Linked DNA regions of Homo sapiens: all the other regions are reported to be linked to region 1. Evidence: microRNA targets listed by miRTarBase, many of them from high-throughput screens and not tested one by one. Region 1 holds a microRNA gene; each other region holds the end of a gene's coding sequence.
Evidence for each region. The annotated mature microRNA hsa-miR-4739 reads AAGGGAGGAGGAGCGGAGGGGCCCU and lies in region 1 at 1,362-1,386, opposite strand. An mRNA with a match to its seed (bases 2 to 7 or 8) in the 3' UTR can be bound and repressed. Matches are read on the target gene's strand: a 7mer-m8 pairs with bases 2 to 8, a 7mer-A1 pairs with bases 2 to 7 and ends in A, and an 8mer does both.

Region 1 (3,075 bases):
AGTGACCTGGACCTTAACATTGACCCTGGCACCCCGCCTGCTGTTCCCCATGACGCCCCACGCCCCCACCCTGCGTCTGCTCCTGTGACTTGAGGAAACGGACCGACCTCCTTTAAAGGAGGGGTTCCTGAGCCTGGGGAGCGTGACTTCCGAGCCTGTCCGAAAACACCAAACGCCAAAGACACCGAAGCTGTTCCACAGAAGCCGCAGCCGATCGAAAGCCATTGCTGCACGGGATTTTCTTTGGAATTGGTTTTTGGTTCAGGTATTTTTTGGATTAGCATCATCAACACTAGAACTCAACATGAGAAATCCTCCTGGCACCCTCAGACCCCCAGGATCCACCCGCAGCGCCCCACCCCTCGGGGGTCTAAGGACGGGGCCACGGGAGGTGCTCCCCACGCCTTAGCTAGACGCAAGGCCCTCCCGCAGGCTCCCGCAAGCCCATCAGGGCTGGGCGTTTCCCACCCCTTCCCACCCCACCCATCCACCTTCCGTCCAAGCAGGAGTGCAGCCTGCTTGGGCTCAGCGTCCCCTCTTCTGAGAAGCAGCCCGGCCCCATCCTGAGCGCCCCTGGGCCCACAATCCCTCCTCACGTGTGTGGGGCTGGCCGTTGATGTCGCCTGGGCTGGGGGTGCACCTGCAGCGCAAACACGTGACTAAGCATCTTCCTGTCCCGGGCCCTATCAGCGTTGGGCCCCAGGCAGCCCCTCCAGGGGCTACAGTCACCCACCCACCTACAAAGCCCCTCATCTGCAGCGGTGGCTTCATTCCCGGGACGCGCCCCAGGCTCTGCTCAGTCATGGCCCCCAGACCCTCAGGAGCCCCCGAAACATGATGACCTCCAGCCACGTGCCAGCTGCCAGGAGGAGGCTTCAAGACCCCAGATGAGCACCCGGCTGGCCATGCCCCAGGGACAGAGGACCCAGTGTGACAGAATCCGGCCTGGGCCACAGCCACCCACACAGTCCATCCCAGTTCAGCCCGAGGTGGACAAGAAAAGTCCCACCAGGGACTGGAGCAGATGGGGCGGGCTCCGGACCCCTGCCTGGTCCACCATCTGTCTTGCCAGTCGGTCCGTCTACCCAGGCAGCCCCTCCTCCCGGCCCACCATCTGCCCGGCCCTGCTAGGCCCTCCTCCTGGCTCCTCCAGGGCCCTCAGGAGGAGACAGAGCTGGAGCCAGGGCCCAGACCTCCACTGCCTTGGGCCCGCCCCATCTGGCACCTCCAGAAGAAGGGGGCGGCAAGAGCTTGGCCAGGGCAGGGGCACTCCAGGGCAGCCGAAGGCCCTTGCCAGCTGTCTCATGATGAGATGAGCAGAGGGAGGGGGAGGGGAGGAAGGGAGAGGCTCTGGGAAGACAAGGGCCCCTCCGCTCCTCCTCCCTTCTTCCTCCCCTGCCCACGTGGCCTGGGCGGGAGGGACACGCCGATGGGAACATCCCAGCTGGTCCAGGCCTCTGCTCCCCCCAGCTCCTCCTCCCTGGCGGGCAGCTCTTCTGGGCTCCTGAGGTGCTGCGCAGCCCCTTCCCTGGCCCTGGGACCCCCAGTGCCTGAGATGAAAGAGGAGTTGCTTCCATGGACGGTCCCAGTGCAAGCTGGGGGGCGCTGGCCTCAGGACACCAGGCATCCAAGACATAGGGACACCAGAAGCCCCGGCTCTGCCTCTGAGGTCCAGCAGCCCCAAAGCCCCTGCTCAGAAGCCAGCGATGGGAGGGCAGGGCCTGCCTGTGGGACCCATCATGGGCGCAGCAATCGCCAGGCCCTGGGCAGACAGCAGCACAGCCTGTGAGTCCAGGGCTGGGGTAAGTCGGCAAGTGCACCCCCGGAGGTGGAATGACAGGAGCTCCTGTGGAGGACGCAGGCGACCCCCGCCCCTCACTCCACTGTGAGGCCTGAGGATGTACAGGGGCAGCTCTCCCTGGCTTATGAAACGCCCCCACCCTGCTGCCCCTCTGGGTCCTCCTCACCCTGTGGCCTGCAGGGTCAGGAGCATGACTTTGGTGTCAGGAGAGAGGCTGGCTCCTGCCTGTGGCGGGTGTTGGGGGAGGAGTGGGGTTCATTATAAATTACGCTCCCCTCGAACCCGGCTGTTAGGTGAGGGCAGGGCTGGGATTCACCCTGCTCTCTGCAGGGGAGGGTCAGCCCCCAGGTGCTCCTGGGTGGGTCTCCACGGCAGGCCAAAAGGGCAGGCCCTGGGCATGTCCACCCCCTGTCTCTGGTCCCACAGCCCCCTACTTGCCACCTGCCCTGAGCAGCCCCCAGGAGAGCACCCGCAGGGAGGATGCTGAGGTGCTGGAGGGCAGGAGTCCCAGCTGAGGCTGTGACCCCAGCTGTGCTCCCCGTTCCCTCTTAGGACCAGCAAAGACCCAAGGACAGGCGGCCAATCAGGGCCCGGTGTTTACCCCTCCTCCCCCACCCCCATCACGGGCCTCCCGCAGGACCCCCAGGAAGAGCAGCTTCCATTGACCAAGGTCGGGGGACGCCCTCCCGCTGACACTCACTCTCCACGGATCCTGGAGCCCACGAGTCCCCTCCCCACCTCCACTGCACTGGGCCCCCCGCAGGCCCTGGTGGGGGTGGCCACGGATAACCACACAAACATGCATTTTCCTTGTAGGAGCAGGCAGGTGACAACCAGTGTCCTACTTTCCTGCATTAAAACACCCAAATCAACAGGACGGAGAAGGCCCGGAAGAGGGGACCTGAGGGAGCCAGCCGGGCGCTCAGCCTGCTTCGCTGGGATGCTTGTCGAGGTCGGGACGGCACCACCAAACTCACCTCTGTGCGCCCTGCGGGGCCCAGGAGACTCGGTCCTCCCTGGGCTCCCCCAGGCCTGGGGTGGACGTTGGAATAAAGTGGGGACAACACGATGAGAGACCCCAGCCCTGGAGGTGCCCTCGGCCAAAGCCCGAGATCAAAGCTGGGAGATTCGTGGCTGGACAGCACCACCTGGTGGACACGTTGGAGATTACCAAAGCCGAACAGTCAATTCGTTCTTGGTTCTGGGATTTTCTTAATTGGGTCTTAGCTGGGCCTTCCTTTCTCTTTCCCCAGTAGCAGGGGCTTTGTGACTAT
Region 2 (3,068 bases), not on the chromosome of region 1:
TCCCTGCTTAAATTTGATCTTTTCCTTGCTCACAAGAATTAAAGACACAAGCACATAGAGCACAGAAAGTTCTAGTTCTCTGTATGTAGCCAGCCTACTCAAACCACAGCTAACCAGGCTCTAGAGGTGAGGCCCTGAGGAGGGAACCCCAGGAATAAAAATACAGAGCAGGCTATTTCGGAGATGCCCTCCAAGAACACTGGTGTGTGAGGCAGGTGGGAAACTTAAGTGAGGTGACGAGGTGCTCTTTCCTTCTCTGCTGGTGCTGCTTCTGCTGCCACCAGCGCCCACTCCTCCTCCCTACCCGTGGGCAGCACAGGGTGTGTGACAGCAGGCCACATCCCAGAGCCCACCCCTCTCATGTCTCTGTTTCCTTGCAGGCCCTTTGGACAGGCACTTCGGCCCCTCCTGGACTCCATTCAGATCCAGCCTCCAGGAGGGAGCTCCGTGGGCAGACCCAACGGCCAGAGCTAACAGGACTGCCTGGGACCGCCCTGCCTCACCAGGGCTTTTCCTTTTTAAACAAAACAAACCCTACCAGATTTCTATTTTATAATTTTACATCAGAGCTAACAACCAGGGGACGGCTTTTTAAATTTCCCAGGGAAGGAGACCGTCAGGCCGCATGTAGACAATGCTGCTAAGAAACAGAACAAAATGCCACCCCTTCTAATAGTATTATACTAATTTATTAAGGCTGTCTTGTCTGTGCGTTCACTTCGGATGCTGTTTCCTAAGCGTCCTCCACACTGGAGAAAGGGAGGGGCTTTGTTTAAACAGAAAGCGAGTCACAGTTTGCGGGAGCCCCAACCTAGAACTCTTTCCAGAGAACACTCACGCTCTACCCAAGTTGCCAACACCTGTGGGACCCAGGTGAGTTTTAGAACATCCGTGACCCAGAAAGTTACTCTAGTGTTAAATGAACCAAAGGATTTGGTGTACATGGGACCGGTTTCAGGATGACTAACCTAACCTAAGTGAACTCTTTAGCCACAACCCTCACCTTCCCTCCCTTACCCCAAGCAAGGCCAGTGCTGGAGCAGCCATTGCCTCCGGATCAAGGGAGTAACAGCAAGTATCAGGCCGGAGAAAACAGGATAAAGCCATTCCTCCTTCCACCTAGATGGATTGCCAATCTTCTGCCATCAATTTTGGGAAACCTGCCTTTGTGCCCCCGAGGCTGCCTTTCCTCAGCATAGCTGACTTGTCATAGTGGATGAGGTCTGGGCTGGAGCAGTAGAAGCCAAGGCCTTTTTTCTGCAAGTAATGATGTAGGTTATTTGCAGTCTCTGTAACCACCATCCAGGCCAGTACGCAGTATTTAGCTGGGGACCAAGGGATGGGATTCCCTACTCTAAGAAAATACCTTTATTTTAATTATTATTATTTTTTGAGACGGAGTCTCGCTCTACCACCCAGGCTGGTGTGCAGTGGCATGATCTCGGCTCACAGAAACCTCTGCCTCCCGGGTTCAAGTGGTTCTCCTGCCTCAGCCTCCTGAGTAGCTGGGATTACAGGTGCGTGCCACCACGCCAGGCTAATTTTTGTATTTTCAGTAGAGACAGGGTTTTGCCATGTTGGCCAGGCTGGTCTGGAACTCCTGACCTCGGGTGATCCACCTCCCTTGGCCTCCCAAAGTGCTGGGATTACAGGCGTGAGCCACCGCTGCCTGGCCAGAAAATACCTTTGATATGGAAAGAATAATGATGTGAGGCCTGGCGCGGTGGCTCACGCCTGTAATCCCAGCACTTTGGGAGGCCGAGGCAGGCAGATCACTTGAGGTCAGGACTTCAAGACCAGCCTGGCCAACATGGTGAAACCCCGTCTCTACTAAAAATACAAAATTAGCCGGGCATGGTGGCGCATGCCTGTAGTCCCAGCTACTCGGGAGGCTGAGGCAGGAGAATCGCTTGAACCCGGGAGGCAGAGATTGCGATGAGCCGAGATCGTACCAGTGCACTCCAGCCTGGGCGACAGAGTGAGACTCCATCTCAAAAAAATAAAATAATGAAGTGGAATCAAGGTGGCAAGAAAATTTAGAATCGTTTCTGATAGGGACTTTCCCTTATCCTAAATGTGTTTTGAAGGCACACGTTATTTCCATTGTCATTCTGACTTTAGAAAGGCAGGTTGGGGCATGAGTGGGCATTTTCCTAATGACTTGCTGCTAGGAGGTTATAGGCAGGGAACAGTCTGGGAGTCTCTAATCCAGAGAGACTTTCAGATTCCCTCTCTTCACATGAACCTCCATTAGTTAGATTTTGGGAAAGTGAGCATGAAGAAGGGACTCAGAGCTGCCAGGTACCCGAGTCTCAGGTCTGACATCCTTGGGCCCCTTCTGCCACAACTTCTTGCCACTTCACGGACTTGAATTATGTTGCTTCTTCCTGGAAGTCTGGCCTGCAGCACAGGCCTTTCCTCTCCAAAAAGCTGCTGCTCATTTCTGGCCCCATCTGCTGCTATCTTTGCCATCAGCCATCACAGTTTGGCATCATCAGAGTCTCAGCTAGAGGAGCTGTCATTCTGCCTTAGTGTTTGCCTGCGACCTGACCAGGGGCATGACCAGCTGGGATGTCAAGTGACATTTGGGAACTTGTAGAGGCCAAATGATTGAAAGTTTAATTCTTCTCAAGACCCACTGATTTGCCAGTGTGCATGGAAATAATAGATTAGAGCAGAAACTAGCAGGGACTGTTGTATAATCGTGATCTACTAGCAGAATTGGGCCCAAAGAGAAAGAATTTCTGAGGCTGGGTTTCTTCTGGGAGGGTAGCAGGTTGGTCTTGGCCAGTGCTCTGTTTCCCACCAGTGTTGTTCCCTTTTCCAGCTTGCCTGGCCCGGCTCTGTCTTCCAGGGTCCTGCTCCAGACCCCTCTGCCTGGGGTCTCCCCTCCATCCAGGGGGTTCTGGGCATCACAGCTCCTTTTTTTCCTTTCTCCTCTTCCAGATCCAGTTTCAGCTGGTTTGCTTCTTCCAGCAGGCACCCTTAGGCCCAGGAGCAGCTCCCCTGAGAGAATTTGAGTCACTCATTTCCTTGAACAGCACCCCCCTTTATACTAGCAGCCATTT
Region 3 (3,068 bases), not on the chromosome of region 1:
CTACATAATTGTTCTGTTGGTTAATATGCCCAAAATAATAGTTACTATCATTACATCTTACAGAAACAAAAACTTTAAGCTTATTACTTTTCAGAAGGAAAAAAGTATCCTATAACTGAAAATAATTTTCGCCACAATAGCAAAATAGAAAAAATAAATCTTCCTGAAACATTAGCAAGAGATTTTAGTTTTTATTTGTTTAAAGAGTATAGGTGGTGGTTTCAAGAAAAGACTTTTGCTAAAAGCAGCTAGCAATAAGATTATGGCTATCAAACCAGTTTCTTTCATAGAAAGTGACCATTCCTTGAAGTGCTACTGTTTTTGAAAGTTTCTTAGAACAGTCTCAGCATTCTAAACAGTCTGTAGTTCTACATATTTGTTGTTGCAATCTTGGGCAGGAAAATCACTAATAACAGGAAACAGAGGCCGGGCACGGTGGCTAACGCCTGTCTTCCCAGCACTTTGGGAGGCTGAGGTGGGCAGATCACAAGGTCAGGAGTTTGAGACCAGCCTGACCAACAGGGTGAAACCCCATCTCTACTAAAAATACAAAAATTAGCCAGGCGTGGCCCTGTAATCCCAGCTACTCAGGAGGCTGAGGCAGGAGAATAGCTTGAACCAGGGAGGCAGAGGTTGCAGTGAGCTGAGTTCACGCCATTGCACTCCAGCCCCGGCGACAGAGCAAGACTCTGTCTCAAAAACAAACAAACAAACAAACAGGAAGCAGAGAGCTTTTTGAAAAATAGCCTTGATCAATCCAACAAATACAGTATTCAGAAACACTACAGAGCAACAAAGTCTTCTCATAAGAGTCATATTTATAGTATTTCTTAACAGAAATATAAACCTAAGAATTCCATTCTCTAGATTCAAAAGATTGGCTTGCTCATAACCAGGTCTCAGCGCAATCTGTCCCCAATATATTTAAAATGCAGTTATAAATTCAAAATAAAAATTCGTTTTAATTTTAAGAAAAATGTCAAGAATTACAAGCCATATTAAAGCAAACTAGTTAGCAGGTTATGATTCCATTACAATTACAATACTGTTGTGCAGAACATTACTGCGGGAACATGCAGAGTACCTTTTTAAAAATAACTTCCCTTGAGTGTATTTGTTTCCGTTGAAGTTGGATTTAATGTTTGAAAATTACCTAAACTCATCTGGACCAGTGGTATCGTGAGTAAGATACGTGATTAAGCTGGATACTTGTGGTTCAAATTAAGTTGTGACTATTAAGAAACTCTACTTACCTTCTTGTGAGACTCAAACTGACTTTAAAACAATTCCAAACAATACCAAGAGAGCCTCTCAAGTGGCTGTTCCAAGTAACAACTATCATTTAAATAATTCATAAATCTTACTTTGAGTGGAAAGTTGAACTACATGGTCTCTGATACCCCTTCCAATGCTCAATCTTTACAATCATACCTCATACATACAAATAATTCCTACACACATTGTATTAGAAATGGGCATCTTATAAAATGGAAGTATTACATAATAGAGTACATTTCCTTGAAACCAATCACATATTAATTTATTCCACCTAAAAACATACTACCATTAAAAGTATAACTGAGCAAATGCAGAAGCCAGCTTCTGGATTCTTAATGATCACTTTAATATGAGTGGAGGTGATTAATACTTATGGTACAGACTCACTAGTCTGCAAAATAATTCAAGAGAAGTCAATATTTATTAGACAATAAAATAATTGTTCCAAAGGATATTTCTAAATAACTTCAAAGAAGTTACCACAAAGTTAAAAAGGAATATCTTCCATGTTAAGTTTGTGATAAAATAATTTAAACACATGATTGACTCTACAAATCTTTTTTACAAATTACTTCAGAAGTTATAAGAGGAAATGTTTTTCTTTTTCCTCTGCTATCTCTTATTTTTTCCTTCCTACTTCTGATCCCCTTAATATACAATATTATTGATGTAAACTCAAGAATTCATGGTAAAAGGCATCTTTTTGCTTCACAGAAATCATGACCTATAGAGAAAACAAGGTAAAAACTAAGGAAAACTGAACATTGAACTTTTTTCAAAAAAATTACAAAATAGGATGTATAACATTATCTTTGGAAAACAGACATTTTCTTTCTACTAGAAATAGCAAAAATCATTCTACATTTTTTCTTCCCCAATTGCATGTTCAATTAGCATACATTCCAACAGTGTGCATGAAAAAATTTCTAAGCCAGAGGTATTTAAGTGATTTCTTCCTAAGTGTTTTGGCTAATTCAGTGGCCAAGAAACTATGATGTTTATTCTCTGATTGGACAGAGTCAAGAAACAAAACAGATATAATTACCAAGGGATAAAGCTGATATGACCCAGCAACAATCTGTCATTACTTCAGCTGTTAGTCGGTCTTCTCCCCCCACCCAGCCCCACAAAAAAAGTTCTGCTCTGCTTAAGTGTACAAGACTCCAGTGAACTTCCAACAGTTTGGCTTCAAGTGACCTAGGAATGGAGTGAGTCATCTGTAAAGCCTGGAGTGGTCCAAATAACACAGATAACTTCAGTAACAACTGGAAACAGCTGGCTCCAAATCAGGGAGCTACCCAATCTTCAGTGACAAGGAGGAAACAAAGTCCAAGCTTCTAAAACACGTAACGACAAGTCCAGGAACGTGGCCGGACATAATCCAAAAATGTGGGCTGCAGTGGGGAAAAATAAGAATGGAAAAATAATTTGTGTACAGAGTAGAGGAGGTGTGGAGATAGGCAGGGATGTTAATATGATACATTGTACATCTCTAAAATGCCTCCCACCATTTCAACAACCCTCAAGGTATAAGCAGCTCACTAATTCAAAAGATGTTCAGTACTTTTATCTATAACACAGATTTATTCAATTAGGTGCTTCACATAAAGCTTTTAAAGTCCAGTAAACTATACACAATTGTGTGGACTTTGACCAGTTTCTAAATAGGCACTATTTCTTTCTGTATCTTTATTTTAGCACAGCCCTACTTTTAGTACCTTAAAATCTAAATGGTGGTTAAGGACGACAAATAGATATATATATATATATTTATATATAACCACCATTTA

Region 2: miRTarBase lists DESI1 as a target of hsa-miR-4739. Seed matches in the 3' UTR shown: 7mer-m8 at 1,008-1,014 and 7mer-m8 at 1,619-1,625.
Region 3: miRTarBase lists SOAT1 as a target of hsa-miR-4739. Seed matches in the 3' UTR shown: 7mer-m8 at 621-627.

What each region holds. Positions count from the first base shown.
Region 1 is chr17:79,705,855-79,708,929 of GRCh38, forward strand. MIR4739 (microRNA 4739) reads right to left here and starts at 1,395; the gene lies at 1,322-1,395. LINC02078 (long intergenic non-protein coding RNA 2078) reads left to right here and starts at 1,412. Exons shown (of 2, transcript NR_109783.1): 1 at 1,412-1,802; 2 at 2,618-3,075. RefSeq lists enhancers at 1,254-1,875, 1,876-2,497.
Region 2 is chr22:41,598,503-41,601,570 of GRCh38, reverse strand. DESI1 (desumoylating isopeptidase 1) reads left to right here. Exons shown (of 6, transcript NM_015704.3): 6 at 381-3,068. The coding sequence ends at 474. Among named protein-coding and RNA genes, the nearest start is that of PMM1, 10 kb to the right of the region's middle.
Region 3 is chr1:179,353,189-179,356,256 of GRCh38, reverse strand. SOAT1 (sterol O-acyltransferase 1) reads right to left here. Exons shown (of 16, transcript NM_003101.6): 16 at 1-2,672. The coding sequence ends at 2,616. Among named protein-coding and RNA genes, the nearest start is that of AXDND1, 11 kb to the left of the region's middle.